4 linked regions of the Homo sapiens genome follow. The protein of the gene in region 1 interacts with the protein of each later gene in a pairwise test. Each region holds a gene or a part of one and is shown in the gene's direction. Other genes may lie near its edges. The genes, in order: CEP72, MCM10, CHCHD3 and ATXN7.

Region 1 (7,136 bases):
GCCCTGGCTTGGATGCTGCGAGCCAGGTGGGCCTGGGGTGAGCGCTCGTCCCTGGGGTGGGTGGAGGCCCCCATTTCCCTCTCAAGTCCCCTCACTGTACATCACAGCCTCCTCCCACCCCCGCTCTGTTTAGAGAAAGCCCAGAGGCCCCTCAGGCTGAACCTCCAGCCCTCTTCTCTGACCATGTGGGTCTCCCTGTTTCCTTCCGCTGGCCTGGTCTCTGTAGGGCTCACTGAGCCTGCAGTCTGGGACCCACAGGCTTGAGGATTGAGGCTCGGGGCCTGGGAGCCTCCCTGGGATGTTCTAGAAAGCTATGGATGGGGCACCTGTCAGGGAGACAGCACACGGAGAGCCTCTCCCACCTGGGTCCTACCATAGCGGCCTGGGCCTGTGGGCTTAAAGAGCCGCTCCGGAATTTAACTGGGCCTGAGGGCTGGTGCCCTGTGAGGAACCCGGGATAGAACCTGGGGACAGAGGCCTCCATTAGTCCTTGGGAGCGGCAGGTAGCCCATGGGGTCACTGTGATCCCGGCACATTGTGGGAGCGTGCGCTGGGATGGGGAGGGGTCACTGTGAGCACGGTGCGTCGTGGGAGCGTGCGCTGGGATGGGGAGGGGTCATCGTGATGATGGCACAGCACACTCTCCTGTGGTCTAGGTTTAGGGATGCCAGTGAGACCCGCTGAAGCGTTGGGGCCCTACCCGAGGTGAGGCGTGCCCAGGTCTGGGGACTCCTGTCTTGGGGCCCCTCCCAGGAGAACCACCCCCCTCCTCTGGCAGGAAGCCCCCAAAGCTGTGGAGGAGCCCTGGGCCCACAGACAGCATCCCTGCTGCTGGGGACCCCAGGCCTGTGCGGGTGCCGCTGCCATGGGGCTGATGGGGCCCAGCCCAGCAGCCCCTGCCTTTGCTTTCCCGGCTTCTCTGCGGCTCTGTGCTTTTGCTGCCCCATTCCAGGCCGGAAGGCTCCCGCGCCTCCATGGATCTTCATGATTTGGCCAACCAGAGTGAGCACCGTGAGGAAGTGGAGACAGACACAACTTTCAGCAGCAGAAGACAGGATAATAAAGTTGGGTTTGGTTTATGATCTAACGTGACCATTAAAAGTGTTTAATAAACAACGTTAAAGACTACTTAGTGGCAGATGCATCCGGCAATGCTTAGCATAGCCTCATGACTGTCAATACGCACAGGCTTGAAAAACACCTGCAGGATACATGTGGGCATGTTAGTGTGGGTTATCTCAGCAGGGCGGCATATCGAATCTCGGTGCCCTTCTGTAGTGTCTATATTTTCTACAGTGAAGCTGGGATACTTTGGTGAGCAGAGGCATTGTTTTCAAAGTTCCCATTGGTACTTCCATCACATCCCCGTGTGGTTCTGTCCTGGACCGGCTGCCCACTGAGGTCCCACTCGCCCCTACCCTGCCCTGTCTGGCCAGCTGGGTACCTGCCCAGGAGGAAGAGGCTCAGTGTTTGGGGCCTGTGTTATGCCCTGAAAAGCCACTGCTGTTGGGTGAGGGCCCATGAGGCCTTCAGTTTGCCATCGTCATGTGCTTCTGAAGAGCCAGGATGCTGTCCACTGTTTGTCTCCTGGCGGGACAGAATTCCACTCAGTGCATATCAGGGGCAGTGATGGGGCTGGGGGTGTGAGGGCTCAGCTGTGCCCTGAACTCCTTCACAGTCTTGCAGGAGGGGTCATGGAGCCATATCTGGGTTTGCAATTTTTGGAAAGTTACGTGACGATCTGCACTCAGGAATGCTGAGTGTTCGGCAGGCCCCATGAACAGTGATCAAATGTGACGCTGTGTGTCCCACAGCCTAAGGGCTGTGGCAGAGACCAGGAGGGCCATCAGCTCCCACAGCTTTCGAGTCCACCTCAGGGCTCCTCCTTGCTGACCTCCCTGGGTTGTCAGTGGAGACAGCCACCCTCCCACAGAGCACCTGCCTGAAATGGGCCAGGCCGCCCCTGTGCCCTGGCTCTTGCTGCACATGCTGAGGTCAGCACGGAGGCGCCCTCGGGCACCAGCATGCCCTCGGGTTTGCAGCTTGTCAAATATCCCATGAAGGCAACCTGACCAAATGTGCTCTAACACCACTGGACCAATGGAACGTCTTGGGCTGAACAGATGCAGCCTTGCATCCACCGCCTGCCACCACCCTCTGTGTACACCCCCTGCACACACCTCTGCACACACCCCCCCTGCACACTGTTGCACATACCCCCTGCACACAGCCTGTGTACACTCCCTGCACAGATCCCCTGCACACAACTCCCTCACACATCCTCTGCACAAACCCTGTGTATACCCCCTGCACACACCTCTACACATACCTTCACACACCATGTATACCTCCTGCACACACCTCTGCACACACCTCCTGCACACACCTTGTGTACACTCCCTGCACACTGTTGCACACACCCCCTGCACATAGCCTCTGCACACAGCCTGTGTACACTCCCTGCACAGATCCCCTGCACACACCTCCCACACACATCCTCTGCACAAACCCTGTGTATACCTCCTGCACACACATCTACACACACCTCCTGCACACACCTTGTGTACACCCCCTGCACACTGTTGCACACACCTCCTGCACACACCTCCTGCACACACTGTTGCACACACCCCCACACATAGCCCCTACACACACCTCTGCACATACTGTTGCACACACCCCCACACATAGCTCCTGCACACACCTCCTGCACACACCTCCTGCACACACTGTTGCACACACCCCCACACATAGACCCTGCACACACCTCCTGCACACACTGTTGCACACACCCCTTGCACATACACCCTGTATATACCCCCTGCATACTCCTTATGTACAGCACTGCACATACTCCCTGCAGAGACCCTGTGTGCATCCTCTGCACACACCCCTTCTGTATACTGTCTGCACACACCCCCTACATGTACACCCTCTGCACACTCCTCCTGCATACACCCCATGTACACCTTCTGCACACACTCCCTGAACACATTCTGAGTACACCTCCTGCACACCCCGTGTACAACCTCTGCACACACCCCCTACACACTCCCCTACACACTCCCCTACACCATCCACACACACTCCCTGCACACAGCCCCTGCACACATTCCCCATGTACACCCTCTGTCTGTGTATACCCTCGTCTACTACCACCATACGTACCCCCCACCACTACCCTGCCTTGTCTATCACCCCCCAGGCTGTGACATACCAGGGATGTTGCCAACGAGCTGGTCTAATCTGGGGTGAGGGTTTCTGGGTGCCCCTAGACACCAGGAGAAAGGCGGGGAGGGGACACCCCTGGGGGTCTGGATTCACTCCACCAGGCGCTGGGCCACAGTGGTACGGTGACACAGTAGATGTCTTGAGCAGGATTAAAGTCTTCCCAATAAACAGGCTGAACTCTGTCTTCCTTGAAAGCTCTGTAGAAGGACCTCACAAGGATAAACACAGCGAGACCCTCCAGGGCGCGGTCAGCCACGAGCCACAGTGCTGGGCCTGTGACATCTCTGGAGGTTCTGGGGTGGAGAAGGACCGGCCGTGGGGAGTGACTGGCTGGGGAGAAGCTCAGCTCCCGCCCACCTCTGGGAGGCCCGGGGCTGGACGGGAGGTGCAGCAGACAAGGCTCCGGGCGGGTGCTGGGGTGTCTGGAGGGGTCCCCGCGGGGGGGTCGGGTTGGGTGGGGAGTCTAGGTGAGTCGGGGGTCCCCGGGGGCGCTGGGTTCAGGGTGGGAGCGGAGTGTGGATGGGGCAGGGTCCCCATGCCCACCACCAGCCGCGATTCCACCGCGCCTACTCGGGGTTTCCCCGGGAGGACACCGCGTGTGTCAAGGGCCGGGGCCTAGAAGGCGGCCGCGCCCAGGGAAGCCTTGACAGGGAGCTATCTGGGGCGGGGGCTGGGGTCGCGTGGCCAGTACCTGGGAGAACCGCCATTCAGGAGAACCCCCCGCCAGGCTCTTGGTTCCGCCCACGCAGTCCCGCCCCCTCCCCCAGCCACGCCCCTCGCCCCGCCGCGCAGGCCCCGCCCCGTCCCGCCAGGCTCTCGGTTCTGCCGACGCAGGTCCCGCCCCTCTCGTAGCCTCGCCCCGCCCGCCGCGCAGGCGCCGTCCGAGGGCTCCGTTTGAAACATGGCGCGGGCTGGCCCTCGGCTGGTGCTGAGCGAGGAGGCGGTTCGGGCGAAGAGCGGCTTAGGGCCTCACCGCGACCTGGGTGCGCCGGAGGGCGGGCGGGGGTGCAAGCGTGAGGTGGCGGGGGGGTGGGTGCCGAGCTTCCCGGGGCGGCGGCGGACCGTGGGCAGGCGGGACCCGTCTACGCAGGCGCCGCGGGCGTCCGGAACGGTCGCGGGCGAGCGGGGCGCGCGTGTCCAGGTGAGCGACCCACCCCCCGTGCCCAGGTGCGGCCCCTGCCCGCGTTCGGGTCCCGGCGTCCCGGCCCCTGCCTGTCTATCGGGTCACTGGTTCCGTGACTGGGGGTTACATCCGCTGAGAAGAGGGAGCCGGCCTTGCTGTCCAGGAGCGCAGCCCGCCCTCCCGCTGGGGATCACCTCCCTGGTTCTCCTGGGCCCACTCTGTGGTGATTGTTGCGCTCGGCCTTCTTGAGGATGTTGGTGGCCGGTTTCCTTCTTTTTGGCTTATTTTTGTCTGGTTTTGGCGTCAAGGTGAAGCCGAGCTCATAAACTGCTGAGAAGTGTTGCCTTCTCTTATATTTAGAAGAGGTTCTGTAGAGTGTGTGCTCATTGTTTGAATGTTTCCTGGAATTTTCCAGTGAAACCATATGGACATGTCAATTTCTGTTTTTGAAGCTTTTAAATGACAAATTCTGTATCTCTGGTTGTTAGAGAACCGTTCATATTAGTTCACCGCGAGTCTTGGCTGTGTGGGGTTTTGTGGCATTGGCTTATTTGAGCTAACTTGTGGAGTGTGTGTGTTGAGTTGTTTCTGGTGTTCTGTTGTTAGCCTGTTAATGTCTGTGTGTGGTCTGCAGGTGTTACTGGACCAACAGGTTCAGTCAGGTGCTGTGGGGGCCACAGGCCAATACACTGAGACAGTGGGGTTTGCAGCAGAGAAAGAGTTTAAGGCTGGCAGGGGCCCAGCAGGGAGGTGGAAGGAGGCCTCAATCCATCTCCCCAAGGAGATCTGAGCGGTTTTTTTTTTTTAGACGGAGTCTCACTCTGTCGTCCAGGTTGGAGTGCAGTGGCACAATCTCAGCTCACTGCAACCTCCACCTCCCAGGTTCAAGTGATTCACTCAGCCTCCTGAGTAGCTGGGATTACAAGCACGCGCCACCATGCCCGGCTAATTTTTTATATTTTTAGTAGAGACGGGGTTTCACCATGTTGGCCAGGCTGGTCTTGAACTCCTGATCTCAGGTGATCCACCTGCCTTGGCCTCCCAAAGTGCTGGGATTACAGGCATGAGCCACCTACACCCAGCCTGAGCTGGGGGTTTTAGAGGAACAGGACTGTGAGGAGCTGGAAGATTGGTGTTGTCAGTTGGTGGAGGTAAGGGCCATGGAATTATCAGGGTGTGGAAACTGCATTCTTTGGTGAATCCGCTTGCGGGGCCCTTTAGACCAGCTGGCATCAGTCCCCAGGTCCTGAAAGAATATCTCAAATGGAAAACTTAACGGTTTATAATGTCCAGGTTATTATCTGTAGAGTGGTTAAGGGGAACTGTAACCTCGTGACAAAATCCAAGTGATCCTGAGGCAGTAGGCACCACAGGGCTCTGAGGAAGCAGGTGAGAGGGCAGCTGACCTCGGGACATGCCGAGTCCTCCCTTCTTCCCTGATTAGTGCTACAAGGTTTACAGGGATATCCCTTTTCTGTTCCTGATGTTGATAATCTGTGTATTCTTTCTTTTTTAGTCTTGCTAGAGGCTTGTGAATGTTATTGATAGTTTCAAAGAACCGACTTTGGGTTTGATTTTTCTCCAGTGTTTTTCTAGTTTCAAATTTCATTGATTTCTGCTTTTTTTTATTTCCTTCTTTCTGCTTGCTTTGCATTTATTTTATACTTTTCTAAATCCTTGAGGCAAAACTGTAGATTATTGATTTGAGACTTTCCTATTTTCTATTATAAACAGTGCCACAAGTTTCCCTGTAAGCACTGCTTTAGCTGTATCCACAAATTTTGTTATGTTGTATTTTAATTTTCATCCAGTTCAGCGTATTTTAAGAATTTCCCTCGATACTTCCTGTTTGACCTGTGAATTTTTTTTTTTTTTTTTTTTTTGAGGTGGAGTCTCGCTCTGTCACCCAGGCTGGAGTGCAGTGACGCAATCTTGGCTCATTGAAAGCTCTGCCTCCTGGGTTCATGCCATTCTCCTGCCTCAGCCTCCCGAGTAGCTGGAACTCCTGACCTCATGATCCGCCCACCTCGGCCTCCCAAAGTGCTGGGATTACAGGCATGATCCACCGCGCCCGGCCTGACCTGTGGATTTTTAAGGAGTATGTTTTTAACGTTCCATGTGTGGATATTTTCCTGTTATTTTTCTGTGTGATTCCATTATGGCCAGAACATAATCTGTATGATTTTAATTCTTTTAAATTTGTCAGGGTTTGTTTTATGATCCAGCATCTGGTCTATGTTGTTGAATGTTCCAGGTGCACTTGAGTGTGTGTGTATTCTGTTGTTGAGTGGAGTGTTATGTAAATACATAAATATCAATTAGATCCTGTTGGTTGGTGATATTGTTCAGTTCTTCTGTATCCTTGCTGATTTTCTGTCTAGTGACTCTATTAATGACTGAGAGAGGGGTCTGGAACCCTTAACTGTAATTGTGGATTTGTCTGTTTTTTTTTTCACTTTGTATGTTTTGAAGCTCTGTTTGTTGAATTACATAGCTAGGATTTTTATACCTTCTTAGTGGACTGACCCTTTTAGTATATGTAGTCTTCCTCTTTTTTTTTTTTTTTTTTGAGACAGAGTTTCCTTCTTGTCCCCCAGGCTGGAGTGCAGTGGCACGATCTTGGGTCACTGCAACCTCTGCCTCCCGGGTTCACATGATTCCTCTGCTTCAGCTTCCCGAGTAGCTGGGATTACAGGCGCCTGCCATCACGCCTGCCTAATTTTTGTATTTTTAGTAGAGACGGGGTTTCACCATGTTGGCCAGGCTAGTCTCGAACTCCTGA
Region 2 (5,086 bases), on another chromosome or scaffold:
ACTTTACCAGGAGCTGGCTTGCCAATTTTTCACAATCTAGATTATAATTTTTAAGTAGTTATTTATATATTGATACTTGACTTTTTTCCAAACTAGATGACTAAAAATGTCATTATAGCAAGAGCTTATGGAAAACGTTAGAAAAATTAAAAAAAATTCTGTTTATTAAGTACAGGGCACAAATGGAAGGGCATGATGCCTTTCAGCCTCCAGATGGCACTGTGATTGTAAGAACCATGTTTTTTCTGGACTTTTTGTCAGTTGCTTTTTTTTTTTTCCTTCTTTTTTTGAGACAGGGTCTCACTCTGTCATCCAGGCAGGAGTGCAGTGCCATGATCATAGCCCATTGCAGCCTTGAACTCATGGGCTCAAGCGATCCTTCTGCTTCTGCCTCCTGAGTAGCTGGGACTACAGGTGTGCACCACTACACCCAGCTAATTTTTTTAATTTACTTTTTTTTATAGAGACAAGGTCTCACTATGTTGTCCAGGCTGGTTTCAAACTCCTGGGCTCAAGTGGGCTCAGCTGCCCAAAGTGCTGGGATTGCAGGCCTGAGCCACCATGCTTGGCTAGTTCTTGATCTAGAACAGAAGGCAGCACACATTGCCTGTAAAATGTCAGTGGTGAATATATTAGGCTTTGTGGGCCAGATGATCTGTCACAACCACACGGCTCTGCTGGTGCAGCCTGAAAGCAACCATAGATAATACACAGGCAACTGGGCACGGCTGTGTTCAAATAAAACTTTATTTATAAAAACTGGTGATGTGCTGGATTGGGGTTGTAGTTTGCTGACTCCTAACTAGAATAGTGATTTTTTTTTTCTCACAATTTTATCATTGATCGACATATAGGCTACCAGAGTTCTCTTCATTGATACTGAACCAGTCTCTAGAGGTGGAAGGTGATGGTTGGGAGGTTGTAAGGGCTAAGGCCACTGGCGTGCCACCTTTCAGGGCAGAAATTGTGATATGGTTTGGCTGTGTCCCCACCCAGATCTCATCTTGAATGGTAGCTCCCATAATTCCCACAAGTTGAGAGAGGGACTCAGTGGGAGGTAATTGAATCATGGGGCAGGTCTTTCCCGGGCTGTTCTCATGAAAACAAATAAGTCTCATGAGATCTGATGGTTTTATAAAGGAGAGTTCCCTGCACACACTGTCTTGCCTGCCGCCATGTAAGACATGCCTTTGCTCTTCCTTCGTCTTCCACCATGATTGTGAGGCCTCCCCAGCCATGTGGAACTGAGTCCATTAAACTTCTTTCCTTTATAAATTACCCAGTCTTGGGTATGTCTTTACTAGCAGCATGAGAACAGACTAATGAGAACGAGTAGACTCTAAGCTAGGTAAGGGGAAGGGGAGACAGGCAGAGCATCCCCACCCCACCCCAACCCTCTGAAATCCAAGTAAGCAGGCAGACATACTTCCTTAGCTTTATTATATGTCTTCTCTCTTTCTCTCTCTTTTTCCCAGAGTAAACTTCATAGGAAATAAGTTTTCACCATAGTGTTCACATCCCTTCTCAGGGTGGAAGTCACCCACCATTTTAAAAACTAGAGCAAGAAGGGCTGGACTTGGTGGCTCATGCCTGTAATTCCAGCAGTTTGGGAGGCTGAGGCAGATGGAACACTTGAGCCCAGGAGTTCAAGACCAGCCTGGGCAACATAGTGAGACTCCCCATCTCTACAGAAATTTAAAAATGAGCTGGGCATGGTGGTGTACACCTTTGGTCCCAGCTACTCAAGAGGCTGAGGCAGGAGGATCACTTGATCCCTGAAGATCAAGGCTGCTGCAGTGAGCTGTGATCGCACTACTGCACTCCAGCCTGGGCCACAGAGTGAACCCTGTCTCTAAAAAAAAATAAAAACAAAACAAGAGTCCCTGGGCCCTTTGAATAAAAAGAGAGTAAAGAGGCTGGGCACAGTGGCTCACGCCCGTAATCCCAGCACTTTGGGAGGCTGAGGCAGGCAGATCACTTGTGCCCAGGAGTTTGAGGCCAGCGTGGGCAACATAGCAAAATCCCATCTCTCCAAAAAAAAAAAAAAAAGGAAAAGAAAAGAAAGTGAGTAAAGGCTTTTGGGTTATAAAGAGAAAGGGAGAAGGATGATCCAGACTAGAAAGAAGATTATTCCTTTCTTAGCTCAACCTTTTTGCTCCAAAAAAAAGAGGAGGAAGGGGCCAAACATAGATTATCCTGCACCAGAGGGCCAGCTCCTTAAATCTGAGTCTCATCCCAACCACCATCATTTGTAAAAACCAAGGGTGCATTCATTACCTGCAGTGCGTGGATCCCTGTGGTGCCATCATTATCATTTGAAGCTCCATCTCTGAAGCCTCTAGCTTTGTAAGGACCTACAGACCACTTCCCAAGTCATTGCAGGTTTATTTTTGTCGCATTTGAGCATAACCTCAGATTTGGCATACAATACGAATGTCACCTTGAACAGCTTCTCCTTGAATGGGGGCCTACTCTCCCCAGGTGCAGTGAGCACCGTCGTCTTTACATGAGTGGGCCTACACCACCCTGCTGAGTAAATCCATCTGTTCTGTTTCAGTAACTGTGGCCTCTACAAATGGGAACGGGACGGAATGCTAAAGGTATGCCATTTGCGTACTAATTTTTGACTCCTTTTAGTGACCCATGCTAATAATGTGGAACCATCTCCTATTAAAATATTTTCATTTTTCTAGGAAAAGACTGGTCCAAAGATAGGAGGAGAAACTCTGTTACCAAGAGGAGAAGAACATGCTAAATTTCTGAACAGCCTTAAATAACCCGAACTTCAGACATTTTCCCACAGACTTCCTGGCCTCCTGTGACTCTGGAAAGCAAAGGATTGGCTGTGTATTGTCCATTGATTCCTGATTGACGCCGTCAAAAACAAATGCTTGTTAAGCCCATAAGCTTTGCCTGCTTACTTTCTGCCATTGGGTTGGTTTGATACCACATTTAACATTGACATTTAAGTGGAAAACCAAGTTATCATTGTCTTTTCTAAGCTCAGTGTGGATGATTGCATTACTTCATTCACTGAAGTTTTTGCCCAAAAATTGGAAGGTAAACAGAGAGCTATGTTTCTGTATCTTTTGGTTATAGAGTGTTCACTTCTTTATCATAACAAAATTCTAGTGTTTATACGAACACCCAGAGGCAAAAGAATTTGGCTTAATTCTCACTCCAGGTAAGTAGCTTAACTTCTGGGCTTCAGTTTTCTCATCTGTAAAATCAGGAAGATTGGACTAAGTGATCCTGAAATGTATTTTTTAGCACTGGATTTCTACAAATAATAAAACTTTCCCATCTAGATAATGATGATCACATAGTCTTGATGTACGGACATTAAAAGCCAGATTTCTTCATTCAATTCTGTTATCTCTGTTTTACTCTTTGAAATTGATCAAGCCACTGAATCACTTTGCATTTCAGTTTATATATATAGAGAGAAAGAAGGTGTCTGCTCTTACATTATTGTGGAGCCCTGTGATAGAAATATGTAAAATCTCATATTATTTTTTTTTTAATTTTTTTATTTTTTATGACAGGGTCTCACTATGTCACCCTGGCTGGAGTGCAGTAGTGCGATCGCGGCACACTGCAGCCTTGGCTTCCCTGGGCTCAAGCAGTCCTCCCACCTCAGTCTCCCAAATAGCTAGGACTACAGGCGTGCGTGACCAAGCCCAGCTAATTTTTGCATTTTTTGTAGAGATGGGGTTTTGCCATGTTGCTCAGGCTGGTCTCAAACTCCTGAGCACTAGCAATCCACCCACCTCTGTTTCCAAAAAAAAAAAAAAAATGAAAGGTCAACCCCTATGCAAATTACCACAGCAAAGGTTTCATTCAGGAGATTCTTCCATCTGGGCAACCTGGTTTTCCAAATATCATTTGACCTAAGTGAATGTTGATACTAGCTAAAGATTGGGTAAATTGGTTGAATTATTGTATTGAAGCTTGAGCTGTAGCTAAAAGTAATTTAGGTTTCCCCTAAGATGTTATTATGTTAGGGACATAACACTTTTGGGAGGTTGTTGTGGGAGATGGTTGATTTAGGTTTTCAAAAGCTAGAAATAAAATTTACATGCCTTAGATTTCATAAAATTCTGCTCTAATTGGGTGGAAGGTGCTGTATCTAACTTGTGTTCCTCCTAAGGTTATGTCCTAATAACTATTCTTTTAGGAGTATACTTCTACTTTATAGAAGGTTGCTTTTCTTTTTAATTTTTTCTAACAAAGAAAAGAATAAAGTATTTATTAATAAGAACCAGAAAGCACTTGAAACTGATGTTTTTAATGGCTCATTTAGGGTAGATTTATTTATCTCATTAACTTAAAACAGCTATGTGTATGAAATAGGTCACAACAGAACTTGAACACCAGGTTGGTGTCTGAGCAATCCCTTTCTTATGGGAAAAACAATGTTCTTGTTTGAACAGAGGGTATCATTGCAGTCAGTATTCACGTGTATATTGTTATATAAGTTGTATAATATGCTTGTAAAGGCTGAGGGTGAGCTGTATCTGGATGCCTTTTTACAATTTGATTTTAACTTTTAAAATAAATTTAAAACATAATTGTCACTTCTTAGTTTTGCTCAATCTTGGGGGACTTTGCTTTGAGGTGCTCTGTGCATGTGCTTTCTTAGCATATTTGGGGATGAGACGCGGTCGGTAGGGGTGGGGTAGGGAAACTTGTTATTTTATTTTACTTATTTTTTTGAGACAGAGTCTTGCTCTGTCACCCAGGCTGGAGTGCAGTGGCGCAATCTTGGCTCACTGCAACCTCCACCTCGTGGGCTCAAGCAATCCTCCCACTTCAGCCTCCCGAGCAGCTGGGATTACAGGTGGGCGCCACCGTGCCTGGCTAATTTTTGTATTTTTAGTAGAGAAGGGGTTTCACCATGTTGCCCAGGCTGGTCTCAAACTCCTGGCCTCAAGTGATCCACCTGCCTCAGCCTCCCAAAGTGCTGGGATTACAGGCATGAGCCACTGTGCCCAGCCTAATCCTACCTTCCTTATCAACCTTTATGAAATGCTTTCATGCAAATCCAACATATGTGTTTTATTTTTCTTAACCTGTCATTGGTAGC
Region 3 (7,033 bases), on another chromosome or scaffold:
GCTTGGGAGGCTAAGGCAAGAGGATTGCTTGAGCCTGGGAGGCAGAGGTTGCAGTGAGCCGAGATCATGCCACTGCACTCCAGCCTGGGCAAGAGAGCAAGACCATGTTTCAAAAAAACAAAAAACAAAAAAACTAGAGCTAGTAATGCCTCCCTTATGGAGGTGAATGAAGTTCAATATGTTAATGCCTTGCTAAAGTTATCTTTAAAATTCTCTTTCTACTTTCTTAAAAACTTGAGGTTCTTTAGAGTAAAGTCAAACTGGCTAGTTTTTACCCTGGGACTAAAATATAGAGAACTAGATTTTATACCTGCTGTCCATGAAAGTTGAATGTTTTATAAGTAGTTAATTTGTTTTCCCATTTAAAAGGACATGTAATAATATTTATTATAGGAGATTTGGCTGGCTTTTAGGAATTCATTTTGCTGGTGTACCTTAAGTCCCTCGCCTGATTGACAATATACTGAGGAAAGAGCTAAGTTGCTAGGGCTTGAGGTCTAAGGGCAGCACTGACTGGTATTTGTTTCATTAAGCTTAGGCAAGCTATCCAATTACTTAATGCAAACAAGAAAAGTTTACACTAAACTCCTACTTCTTTGCTTGAAACTCTAGAGAATTTAAATGAGGAGAGATATGTATTTAAAAGAAAGAAATTTAAATGAAACTTAAATCAGGGACTTAATGTAGAATATATTAGAGCAGGAGATCTAAAATATTAAGTGGGAAATGCCAATAAATAAAAAAGGAATGTATTCTCTAAGATACTTGGCATGTTTAGTTTTGTTTTGAGATAATTCTTAAATCTTTGGAAACCCAAGTTAATAATGAGAGACTTATTTTATCTCCTGCCTTTACATATAAAGTCCTGCCTTCCCTTGGTCAGTGAGAGCCTGGGTCTTCTCTCCTTAGTGAAGTGTTCCCAAAACAACATGGCTTCTGATTTTATAGCTCCACTATCTGGGCAGTAGTTTTCAGAGAGGCCCAGATGGCAGGGCTGTCTTATTTGGTTCAAAAAGAGAAAAATTGGTTGACAGCTCATCTACCTTTTGCAGATGGCTGTTGAATAGTATAGCTCCATGCGGTATAAAACCAAGGGGCCAGAGAGGAAGCTTTGAAAGTAATTGGGGGTTTCTGAAAACATAAGCAGTTTTTCTTTGCAAAGTGGTTTTGGCTCAGTAAAGAATTTACAGGAACCATTGAAAGAGGAAACTTAGAAGAAAATAATTGCCATGCAATATTTTGGAGGGGAGGGTTGGGGAAATGGAGAATGGTACAATTTTGAAGTTTCAAATCTATTGCTTTTAAATGGGAAATGGTACAACTTAGAAGCTTCTCATCTTTGGGCACTGGTCAAAACTGAACCTCAGTCAGTATACCATTGAAACTCTGTCCTCCAAGAGAATCTGAAAGCAAGTAAAATTCTTTGCAGAGGTGATTTCATGCCTCAGAGACCCTTCTAAGTGTCACAGGAATCTAACTGAAGGAAATCCTTTCTTGGTGCTTCTGGACCCAACTGATGTTTCCTCTGCCTAAGACACTTTCTCCTTCCCCATGTTGCTCAGTTAATGTCCTGTAGAGCTCAAGTTAAATATCAGTCCCACCCATGCAGTGTCATAGATACCTACCTAACTTTTTAAAAATAATGCATCTGTTATTTGTAATCATGGCTCATGAAAGTAGGGACTGTGTCTCTTGCTCACTACTTCATTCTCAGTAACCAGAGTAGTCCCTTTCACCTAGTAATTATATACTGAATAAATTTATGAATTCCAGTGTGTAGTTTTTGTTGAGTACTGTAGTGAGAAATCTCAGGATTACAGTAGAAGTATATGTGCCCATCGAGTAGAAATTATAACAGTATCAAGCTGGGAGATAATATAATGCCCCTCTGTTTTATTTATCCCCTGCCACCACCTTTTTCAAGATTTTTTATGGAATGAGGAATAATATGTTTAAGGTATAGACTTTTTAGAATGTTTATATGCAAAGGACCATAAGATTATATAGTAGTTCAACCTTCAAATTTTAAAACTGAGGAAACTGAGGCTTATTAGATTGTACAGCTAAGTTGTTGATAGGAAATGAGAATTTGTTCAGAGTCCTACTGCCAAACTCCCTGATGACAAAAAATTTGGTTTCTTAAACAGTCACCATACAGACCTTAAAAAAAGTTTTTTTAAAATTTATAAACATTCCTTTAAAAACATTTGAGAATTTGTGCAGTTCTATTTGTAAGGATGAATGAAAGTATAAGAATTTATTAAGAAAGGAAAATAATATTCTTTTTAGTCAGTTTGCACCACTGCCAATCCTCTTTCAATCCAGGTGTCAAATATAGTTAGGTGTTGATGTTGGAGGGGCTCTGGACTGTTGTGGCACCTCCTGTTGTAGGCTATTTAATGTAGCCTGGGATTATATCACAGATGTGCCACATCTAACATGGTGGCTAAGCCCTTGGAGGATACAGTTTGTCTCGTTAGTTGTTTCTTATATACCATCGCCTTGTGTTCTTTTGCAGTTTGTTTTCCTTGTTTTGTTTGTGGTTAGAAATATGCCATTTATTTATTTATTCATTCATTCATTCACACATGCATACATCAACAACTTTTTCTTGCGTGTTTGATATGTGGCAGGCACTTTTATAAGTATGGGGGATATAGCAGTGAACAAAAATAGGGCAAATCGTTGTCCTTATGGAGCTATGGACAAGAGGGAAAGGAAGCAGCTTGTGAAAGGGTCTAGCTGCTGGAGTTAGTAGAGTCAATTTGTGATTTTAGAAGTCCTTAGAGATCATAAAAATAAAGCAGAATTTATTGGTGAAAAATTGGAAAAGATGATGGAGATGGCATTGTAGTTAGTGAATTTGGAGATTGTCTTCTTCATTTCGTAAAATCACTGCTTTCTCTGTATTCCTACCCGCATAGTGGGTACTATTATTATTACTGCTACTTACCTAACATTTATTGAGTGTATATTATGTTATGGGCATTGTGCTGAGTGCCTTGTTTATATAGAACGCTGTAAGGTAGGTATTACACTATTTCATTTTACCCATGAGAATAACAGGACTCACCGGAGATTAAATAAAGTACTTATTCAGATAGGAAGTTTAGAGCCTTGATTTGGACCCAGAGTTTGCATATCTGTACCAGTCATGGCAAGCTAAATATGTTTATTTTTATTATCACATTGAAGGCTTTTGTGCTCATGTTTTGCTTCTTTTTCATTAACTTGCCAAAATCCTTATGATCCTGTATTTCTTAAAGTTGAACCATGTAGAACTCCATATGTAATTAAAATCTAAGCCATACATAAGTAAACTAAAATGGAAAAAAAAAGTAGTAATTTTTAAACAGTACTTTAAAATTAGATACACCAAATGTGGTAGATGTGATAATTCAGTTGAACAGAATTCATTTTATGTTCATGAACTAATAATAGAATTTGAATAAACATTTTATATATGTTTGTAAAGTGCCTAGCACAGTGCTTAGTAGTTGATCCATAAATGATAGTAATTTTATTATTTTATTTTAGTTTCCACCTCACTGGTAAAAATAGGTAATGCTTTTTTACTTAGGGGTAAGATGTCCATACAAATGCGTTAAATACAGTATTGTAATCTGATATGATAACCTCAGCAGTTATTTGCACAATATTCTCATGGGGAGCACTTCATTTTTGATGTTACTTTCATTTACCTCCAGGATTTATTTGAGTACAAGTGTATTTTGGTAATTAAGGGCTGTAGTCTTAAACTTTAGCATGCATCAGAATTCTAGAGGGCTTATGAAAAGACAGTTTGCTAGGCACTATCCCTAGAGTTTCTGATTCAGCAAGTGTGGGATGGAATCAGAGAAGCTGCATTTCTAACAGACTCCCAGCTGATGCTACTGCAGCTGGTTTGTGGACTGTAGTTTTAGAACTGCTGTTCTAGGAAGTGGTGTGACTTCTAATTATTGCTGTTCTCTTACAATTACACATATCCAGTGGTGTTAATGTGTTGATATCATTGATGTTGCTGAATTTATTGTATGGTCCTTGTGAAATAATTTAGAGAAATTTGGTTTGTATGAGTGTCATTGTGCTTATTGCTTAGGAAGTTTCCCAAAGGTTACTTTTGCATTAGAGAATTTCGAAATACAGATTTTAACTTGTTTCTAGTCCTCTTTTTTTTTATTTAAGACACAAAACTACACAGCTTTGATTTTTAGGGGAAAAGGATGATAACTTTGGAATATATCTCACAAGGTGACTTTTTTTTTTCTGTTGTAGTTGATTTCTGAGAATTCCAGAGTATCAGGATGATGTAGCAATTTAAAAATAGTAACACAAAATTTTATCTCTAGTTTTTTTCAAAAATCTTTTTAAAACTAAAATTTGATAAGCTAGTACTGAGTAGAATTTGGTGCTCATCATTCACACGTATAAAGTAGATTTCACTCAGAATTTCACTTACACCAACATAACAATTTTACTTTTCCTTTTTAAAGCATAGCTATACCTTCAGGGATATGATGGTATAGTAGGGTTATTCTCTCAAAGAAGAAAAGGCAGTCAGAAAATCTTTGTTCATGAGATTAGACTGAAATCTTCAGTGATTCAGTGATTACTGAATGCCTCTATGTGCCAGGCACTATGGCAAAAATCAGTGCCAAAGTAATTTATCTTTATCATGTACAATGAGGGGTTTTAGTGGGTTGTAACTTAATATGATCTAATTGTGTGATGAGGCTACTGAGAAATCTAATGCAATCTTATGCTTCATTAATAGAATTAGTATTGTGTACAGATCTAGGGAAGTAAGATTCTCCTGTCTTAGTTTGCTAGAGCATGTCTGGAGGGTTAGGTTTAGTTTGGAGCTAACAGATCGATTGGAGTCATTCCAGAAGTGAGGAGCCCTGCAGTTGAAAGGCGTGGTCATATTTGCATATGAGGATTGTTGGAAAATAGGGGTAATATACTGGGAGGAAAGATGTCCTTATTAGTTCCATAATGTCTGGCTTCTCTGCTGTGCTGTAACATCCACAATGACAGTGACCTGTCCATCTTGTTTATCGCTGTGTCCTCAATGCCTAGCACAGTGCCTGGTGTGCATTCAGTAAATGGACGAGTTGAGTAAGTTTGGAGAAAGAGACGATGGTTACCTTCAAATATTTGTCATGTAGATGGCTTTTTTTTTTTTTTTTAAACGGAGTCTCATTCGCCCAGGCTAGAATGCAGTGGCATGATCTCAGCTCACTGCGTCCTCTACCTCCCAGGCTCAAGCAGTTCTCCTGCCTCAGCCTCCCAGGTAGCTGGGATTACAGGAATGTATCACCACGCCCAGCGAAGTTTTGTATTTTTAGTAGAGACGGGGTTTCACCATGTTGGCCAGGCTGGTCTTGAACTCCTGACCTCAAGTGGTCCACTTGCCTTGGTCTCCCAAAGTGCTGGGATTACAGGTGTGAGCTGCCACCACGCCTGGCCTAGATGGTTTGTTAATTACTTAAATTTTCAGAGGCCAAATGGAAGCACCAGGGATGGAATTTTTTTGGTGGGCAGATTTTAATTTTACATAAGAAGAACTTTGTAAAACTTAGTTATATTTGGCAGCCAAATTAATAAGCTTCTTCATGTATTTGAATTTGGTTATTTGAAATGCTTGAGTGGAGGCTGCATGGGGATTTACCTCTATACCTGCTTTTTTGATAGATTATGGGCCAAGATGATTTCAGCTGTTGACCTTTTTGGCTATGTGTTTCTATTTTTAAATTATTTCATTTGATAGAAAATAATGTCAACTAATAAAATATTTTTTCTAACTTAGACAATTCTTGTCATTTTAGACTAAAGCAAGCCAAAGAGCTGGACCGAGAGAGGGCTGCTGCCAATGAGCAGTTAACCAGAGCCATCCTTCGGGAGAGGATATGTAGCGAGGAGGAACGCGCTAAGGCAAAGCACCTGGTGAGTATTAAAAATGTAGGAGAAATTTTCTTGCCTACAAGGAAATCTCTGATGTTTGGGAAGAGCTAAGTACTCTGTGCCAGCTTTTAGTGTTGATAATATTATTCATGTTCTCTTTGCTCAGATTTTGATTTTTGCCTTTTATAAGTAGCTTACAGTTTAGGTTTAACCATCAAGGACTTTAAAGGCAGGTAACTCTGGAAGTATTGAAGACCAACATGCAGACATGTGTACATGTTTCACACCTGAAGGATTGTTGTCTGCTTTTTTTTCTTTTTCTTTCCTTTTTTTTTTTGAGACGGAGTCTTGCTCTGTCGCCTAGGCTAGAGTGCAGTGGTGCGATCTCAGCTCACTGCAACCTCCGCCTCCGGGGTTCAAGTGATTCTCCAGCCTCAGCCTCCCGAGTAGCTGAGATTATAGGCACCTGCCATCGTGCCCAGCTAATTTTTGTATTTATAGTAGAGACGGGGTTTCACTATCTTGGCCAGGCTGGTCTTGAACTCCTGACCATGTGATCCACCCGCCTCGGCTTCCCAAACTGCTGGGATTACAGGTGTGAGCCACCGAGCCCGGCCTGTCTTCTTTTTTTGTCCTTTGCCTTTGGTTTTATTGTCTTTGAAACCTCAGGGGTCAGCAATGTAGGCTTCTTTCTCTCGTGGCTGGCAACTACCAGATGTTAGTCTGGAAGACTCTGGCAAAGGTGAGTAAGGTTTGATCAATCACTGCCTGGGGTTTAGGGAAGAGAAAATGTAGAGCCAGGGCCTTGGGGAACAGTCTTTTCTAAGATAATTTTTTTAAAAAGAAAATATTTTTTAATCTTTTAAAAGATTACATAGACATGTTTTTGTTGTTGTCTTTAAAAGTATTACTAACAGACAGAAGAAGGTTTAAAAGACACCCATCAATCTGTCTTTCTGATATAACCATGGTTTACACCAGTGTGTGTTTTCCTCGAGATTATTTTTTTCTAGGCTTTTTAACATATTGAAACATTTAGATAATGCTATAGATGGTGTTAAGCCTCATGAACATTTTCCTATGTCACTGAACATTTTTCTGAAATGTAGTTTTTAATGGCTGAATAATG
Region 4 (7,033 bases), on another chromosome or scaffold:
TTTCAAGACAGATCTTTATGGGCAGAAACACAGAAATGGAAGTAGCAGATTTTAAGAAAACTGATTCAGACTTTGAACTTGTATGACCTTATATTTATTGATTTATTTGAGTCATAAGATTTCTGGGTTTTTTTTTTTTTGAGAATATGAAAGACTAGTTAAGAAAATTTGTGTGTTTATTTGATATTTGCTTTCTGAAAATATAAAAAATTATGAGAGAGCTAGCTATATATGGTCTTTATTCTGGGTCTGTGAAATAATGTAAGGAATTTTGTACTATGCTTTTAGAGCAAGAGTTATCCTGGGGGTCTGTGACCCTCCAAGGGTTGGTTTCAAGGGATTCCTGAACTCCCTGTAGTTGTGACCAGAACTTTTTGTGTATGTGTATTTTTCTGGAAGAGGGTCTGTAGTTGTTTTAGAAAAGAGATCCAGGACTTAAAAAAATTAGAGACACATCTTTTTATTGAATAAAATGGAAGTTAGAATTCTTTTCTTTTCTTTCTTCTTTTTTCCTTTTTCTTTTGAAACAGGGTCTCACTTTGTTGCCCAGTCTGGAATGCAATTGCATGAAACTGGCTCACTGCATCCTTGACCTCCTGGGCTCAAGTGATCCTCCTGCCACAGCCTCCCAGAGTGCTGGGATTACAGTCATGAGCCATCACAGAATGACCATTCTAAAGAGAAAAAAACATTTTTGAAAAGTAGATCTGTGTGCTCGTTACTTGCCTTTTAAAGTTATCTTCAGGCTGGGCACAGTGGCTTATGCCTGTAATCCCAGCACTTTGAGAGGCCAAGGCGGGTGGATCATTTGAGGTAGGCCGAGGCGGGTGGATCATTTGAGGTCAGAAATTCAAGAGCAGCCTGGCCAACATGGTGAAACCCCATCTCTACCAAAAATACAAAAAAAATTATCTAGGCGTGGTGGTGTGGCCTGTAATCCCAGCTACTCAGGAGGCTGAGGCAGGAGAATCACTTGAACCCAGGAGGCTGAGGTTGCAGTGAGCCGAGATCACTACACTCTAGCCTGGGCAACAGAGTAAGACACTGAAATAAATAAATAAATAACAAACAAATAAATAAATAAAGTTGTCTTCAGACTTAGAGGTGTAAAAGCACTTCCATTTTATTCCCACAACAAAGCATTGCCTATCAGTTGATAAGCCAAGCTGGTCTGACGTGCTAGTCCTGCATGTACTGTGGCTGTGTTTTTAAAAAATTATATCTAAAAATTCAGACCAGATCGTTTGATGGTAGATAAGCAAAGATTTGATCTTGACACCAGCCGTTGGAGTAAATGGGTCTTTCAGCTCCACTCTCTTCTCTCCAGAAAATTTGAAATTTGACTCAAAGGGAATCATTGTAAGAAAATGTGTTTGTGCCTTGGCAGGACAGTAGAACATGATGGGAAAAACACAGTTTGAGTCAAAATAGACTTAAAATTCAAATTTGGTTTCCTTTATTCACTGTAGCTACTTACCCTGCTTGACTCTTCAGTTACTCATCTGGATATGGCTAACTAGTAGAGTTGTTGGGAGGCTAGCTAGAAGTTTCCCGTATAAAAGTCTTAGCTCCTCTTTGGCCCGCAAGAAGGACTTACAAGCCAGGTTTGGGGAACCATTAATAAACATCTGAGGAAACATGTATATTCATGGTATAGGATAATAAGTACATTATTTCCAAATTGGTGTGATGAAGATATTAACACTTAAAACATTGTTTTTTAAGAAAAAGATTTTCAAAAATGAGTTAGGATTGAGTGGTCCCCAAATATAGATATTTAGAGGAAAGTGGAAAATGATGGTTTATTTGGCAGAGGGGAGGACATGGATGCTGCTGGGCAGGAAGAAATGATAGCCACCCACCAGCATTATATTTCTCTCTGTGGGCAAGATTCCATTTAACATTTTCTCTTCACTTATAATCTGAATTAAAAAACTAAAATACTGCACATGTACTTTATAGTCCATCACCCCTAAAAGTGCTTCAGCACTCCTTTCGTTTTGAGACCTTCACAGGTAACCCAGGGACTTCATGGGTGGAAGTTACACTTATAACTTTAGTTGTCTAATTCTGCTGTCTTTAAAATGCCTTCACAGTTGGGTACCTGTGTTGATTTTTGTCAATAGGAAAGGGTCTGGCAGGACTGAATCATATTTTACTTTAAATGCTGAAGTAAGAGAGGGCATTATGAGTCAAAAGAAAGTGTGAGATACGTAAATAAAATACTGTATAATGCTTATGGCCATAAAAATAAACTTGCTTCTACTATTTCTATAGTCTTAACCTTTCCTGTCATTTATTCGTGGTGATCATTTATGCTTTCTGCCCTTGGGTTGGGAAATGGTTATGAACACAGCCTTTAGGCTTTGAATATGGCCTTGATTCTCATTTCCTGAGCTCTCTGGTTGTGTTCAACTTGGTCCAGTCTCCTTCTTTGAGTCTAGAGGAGATGACCATTAAATGGGATAATAAATGCAAAAAAGTTTTGCTTACTCCTAGGCTCCTAGTAAGTACTCAGAAAGTGGTAGCCATTTTGAAGACAGTTACATTCTCATCTTTAGAAGGAGATATCATACATCTTTTTCTTTTCTTTTCTTTTTGTTTTTTTTTGAGACAGAGGCTCATTGTTGCCAAGGCTGGAGTGCAGTGGCATGATCTTGGCTCACTGCAACTCCTGCCTCCCAGGGTTCAAGCTATTCTCGTGCCTCAGCCTCCCTAGTAGCTGGGATTACAGGCATGTGCCACTACGCCCAGCTCATTTTTGTATTTTTAGTAGAGATGGGGTTTCGCCATGCTGGCCAGGCTGATCCTGAGCTCCTGACCTCAGGTGATCCACCTGCCTCGGCCTCCCAAAGTGCTGGGATTACAGCTGTGAGCTACCGCACCCTGCTAGAGATACTATACATCCTTTTAAAGAGAATACCTTTATTCATCCTTATTCCCACTTAGACCTTCTGGAACCATCTTACTTTCAACTCAGAAAAGCCTTTTACATTTTCTTGTTATGATAGGCAGGTATCCCAACATCTTGATGACCTATTGGACTTCTCCATTGTTCTTAGCCAATGGGGTTGCATTCTCTATTGGCCTGGCAGGTTATATCAAAATCTTGGATATGTCAGGGGCCAAACCAACAAGCCTGCACAGGTTTGGAGCTGTGATCCATCAAACAACTGTGTGATTTTATAGCCTGGAACAGAGATCAGCAAATTTTCTGTAAAGGACCATATAGTAAATATTGTTTACTTTGCCAGCCATCCAGGTCTCTACACCTACTCAGCTCTGCCATGATAGCAGGAAAACACTCATAGATATAAATGAATGGGTATGACTGTGTTCCAAGAAATGTTGATGAACACTGACATTTGAATTTCATGCAATTTTTATGTGTCACGTCATATTTTATTTTTTCAACCATTTAAAAATGTGAAAGTCATTCTTAGCTCCTGTTATATACAAATCTTAGCTAGATTTGGTCCATGGGCCATAATTTGCAGAATCCTTGCCTAGAATATTAGATGCATAGATTTGTGGCATTGCCAAGCAACCACCCCCAACATGTGCACACACACGTATGTGTGTGTGTGCTCACACACTGCTGTTTTATTTAGCATACTCTGCTTTTGGTATGGCAGTTTGATCTAATGCCTCATCTCTTTGGATAGGATGAAACTTCAGTCAATAAGTTTTTATTAGTCATATTGTGTGGCCGCCTTAGCACATGCATGATTCTGTCACCAATTAATTTTATTTATTGTTAAGTGTTCTCACCTTGCCCATTTTTTTATAGAGCTTGATGATTGGACCCTCTCAGATGTGATGGTTTTTGAAGGGAATCAGTGCTTTTGGAGCTGTCTTTTGCTTAATGTTCCTATTAATCCTTCTTTGCCGTGGAAGGGAAGTAATTAATACTGGCCTCTCAAGCTGCTAACTAGACATTCTTTCCTAAAGGAAATCTGTATCCTGGCCTTCCCTATTCCCTTTCTGCATGATATGTTTGGCTTTATAAAGCACACAAAAATTCCTCTTGTGTTCTAACCCCTGGAGATTAGCTCTAGGATTGGTGTGTACAGAGCATGTAGATATATATGTCTGTGTGTAATTTCATCCGGCCATCACTGAAGCTCTGAGGGCTGCTTCTTTTAGTTTCACCTTTTCACTCCCTCTACCTTTCTCTCCTGGCCATTGTGTAAGGATGCAGATTTGGTGACCTGATAACTGCTCTAACTGATTGGTTTATTTTTTGCTTCGTTTCCTGCTTTTCAACATTCTCTACTGATTTGCTTATTTTGCAGCAAGTACACTCTTTTTGGAGTTTACCTTTTCAAAACAACATTGTGCTGAAAATAAAACCACTAGAGATTATTTGGGTATTGTAGGATTTTTCCCCCTCCAAATGTACAGTAAATACAGTATAAGAGGCATGACTCAGTATTTTAGATATAGAATGCAATTTAAAAAATTGTTTGCCATTTTATATATAGATATTAGAGGTGTAAAATGTGTTCTTACTTTTAGCATTTAAGGGTTTCCTTCTTGTTAAAAAAAGTAAATTTGCTACGTATCTTTTGGATAACAGTTTGGGCAATATGAACCCAAAGTCATTACAAAAAAAGAAAAAAAGGTAAATTCACATCTAGGAATTTAAAGAAACAGTTGGTGAAGTATGCACAGATGTATGTACCAGATTGCTCACCTGTCCTTTTTTTATAACAAAACATAGAAAGTGATCTAAATACCTATGGATAGGGGATTAAGTGAATTAGGGCCTATCCATGTAGTGGAATATGCTGCAATCTTTAAAAAGAATGATGCAGTCAATATTTATTCATAGAAAAAAAGGTATATAATGAGACTATGTATAAGATGGAACTTTTAGAATAGGGTTTTAGTCATCTTTGAAGTATATGGAAGAAAATGCCAGGAGCAAGAATTGTTACAGGGGAGAATCTGTTTTAATTATTAAATTATAATCTAAAACTATAATTTTGATTATTAAACATTATTATAATCTGGTTTGTTTTTAAATTTAAAAAAAAAACAGATTATAATTTAATGCTTTAATTATCAATTAAATTGTTCCTTTTTTTTCCTTAGCCAGTTACCTTCAAATTCAACTCACCTTTATTTGCACCTGCATCTTTGTGGTTTAACTATGATAATTTTAGCAAATTTTCACTTCAGTTATTTTGGCTTTGGAGTATGTTCTATCTCCTATGCCCCACATTCTGGTGGAGATACAGTTCATTGTTTATATGAAATTAGCAACATTGATCTAGCCTTGACGAATGAGAAACGTAACCACATCTGGCTGTGACATAGTGACTCTTTGTGGACTTTGGGCCTTAGAGTTTGTTATAGGAAACTTTAGGACGTGAATACACTATAAAATATAGAAATATTACGATAATTCATGAAGCATGTCTGTCAGTTATCTATTGTTAACAACCCATTCCAAAAGTTTGTGGCTTAAAACACATACCATTTTATTTGCTCATAATTAGGGCAGAGCAGTTCTCCATTGGTAGTGCCTGGCCTGAGGTCACTAATGTGGCTGCAGTCCTCTTAAGTCTTGAGTCAGAACTAGTTAGTCAAGCTGGGCTATCTCTCTGAGCTCCACATAATCTCATCTTCTAGCAGCCTAGATCAAATTTCCTCAGGTGGAGGCACTTTGTTCCAGGAGGGTGAGAACTGCAAGGTTTCTGGAGGCTTAAGCTTAAGAGTCACACAGTACCACTCTGCCATATTCTGCTAGTCAAAGCAAGTCACAAGGCCAACTCAAATTTTAGGAGTTGGACAAAGATACCCCCTCTTGATGGCAAATGCTGCCAAGTCATATTGCACAGGATAGCCTACAGGGAATTGTTGCAGCCATCAACATATGTGCCAACCTGCTTTTGTTATAGTAACTAAACTCTGTTTGTTTGCCATGATTGATAAAACTCTGTTCTGAGGAACAGTGCTAAATGGTTTCCTGTGTTACCTCTTGGGATAACAGCTCTACATGTAGGTAGTATTATCCCATTTTAAAGGTATGAAAAGTGAGCCTTAGAAAGGTTAAGTAACCTGCCCTAGAGCTTTTATCTAGTTAGGGACAGATCTTAAAAGTTAAGGAAAATTTATGTCTATACCAGTGTTTCTTAATCCCATCACTAAAGAACTTGCATGGGGGAGGGAGAGAGGAAGGGTGGGAAGTGGGAGGAAGCGTAGTTTTTAAAATCTCAAAATCCATTATCTTAAAATTTTACATGAATTTTGTATTCTACTCTATAATATATCCCTTTTCAATGTGAAATTCATGGTTTAATTACTTGCCAATCAAATTAAATTTTATCCCCCCAATTTTTAAGAAAATGCAATTCTTCTAGACACAGTATAACAGCTAATCAGCCAGAGATCTTTGGTTGTAAGCAGTAAGAACTAAATCTGACTACTTTAAACATAAAGAGATTACTGGAGGGATGTGGTGACAACAATGCCAAAGAATCAGGCTTCAGAGTGAACCAGATCTAGAGCAGCTTCAGGGATCCAGGTAGCAGGACTCAGTAGACAGTCTTCTCAGGATACAGGAGGGCCAACCTCTCCAGCAGTTTTTAATCCCACTTTCTACTGAGAGTATATCTTTCAGGCCCATACTGGGTCCCAGCAGGTGCCTTGGTTATTGCCTCACTCAGCCAGTACCCTTTAGGGGAGTTGTCATTCCCCAGAAGTGGGAATTGATGGAGGGCAGGTAAAACCAACAGATATTTACTATCTGAACATTTGTGGGCCACTATGAGTGGACTTGGTTTAGACATTGTATCACATATAAGCGACACCATAATGATCCCTGGTTCACCCGTCTCCTTCCCAACCCTACATCTAAGGGTTTTGTTTTGTTTTGTGTTTGAAACAAGCTGTCCTTCTGTCACCTAGGCTGGAGCGCAGTGGCACAATCGTGGCTTACTGCAGCGTTGACCTCCTGGCCTCAAGCAGTCCTCCCACTGCAGCTTCTCAAGAAGCCGGGGATACAGGTGTGTGCCACCAAACCTGG

Evidence for each region.
Region 2: the proteins of CEP72 (region 1) and MCM10 interact in a two-hybrid assay, tested with the Homo sapiens proteins (2 studies listed by BioGRID and IntAct).
Region 3: the proteins of CEP72 (region 1) and CHCHD3 interact in binary tests that used the Homo sapiens proteins (3 or more experiments, as listed by UniProt).
Region 4: the proteins of CEP72 (region 1) and ATXN7 interact in a two-hybrid assay, tested with the Homo sapiens proteins (one study listed by BioGRID and IntAct).

Annotation. Positions count from the first base shown.
Region 1 is NC_000005.10:608,230-615,365, forward strand, and holds the start of CEP72 (centrosomal protein of 72 kDa), read left to right. Parts: upstream 1-4,110; 5' UTR 4,111-4,132; coding exon 4,133-4,214; exon of another isoform or gene 4,215-4,372; intron 4,373-6,323; exon of another isoform or gene 6,324-6,452; intron 6,453-7,136. UniProt on the Homo sapiens protein: Involved in the recruitment of key centrosomal proteins to the centrosome.
Region 2 is NC_000010.11:13,206,534-13,211,619, forward strand, and holds the end of MCM10 (protein MCM10 homolog), read left to right. Parts: intron 1-2,557; coding exon 2,558-2,600; intron 2,601-2,693; coding exon 2,694-2,777; 3' UTR 2,778-4,577; downstream 4,578-5,086. UniProt on the Homo sapiens protein: Acts as a replication initiation factor that brings together the MCM2-7 helicase and the DNA polymerase alpha/primase complex in order to initiate DNA replication. Additionally, plays a role in preventing DNA damage during replication.
Region 3 is NC_000007.14:132,974,082-132,981,114, reverse strand, and holds part of CHCHD3 (MICOS complex subunit MIC19), read left to right. Parts: intron 1-5,828; coding exon 5,829-5,946; intron 5,947-7,033. UniProt on the Homo sapiens protein: Component of the MICOS complex, a large protein complex of the mitochondrial inner membrane that plays crucial roles in the maintenance of crista junctions, inner membrane architecture, and formation of contact sites to the outer membrane.
Region 4 is NC_000003.12:63,866,834-63,873,866, forward strand, and holds part of ATXN7 (ataxin-7), read left to right. Parts: intron 1-7; exon of another isoform or gene 8-80; intron 81-7,033. UniProt on the Homo sapiens protein: Acts as a component of the SAGA (aka STAGA) transcription coactivator-HAT complex. Mediates the interaction of SAGA complex with the CRX and is involved in CRX-dependent gene activation.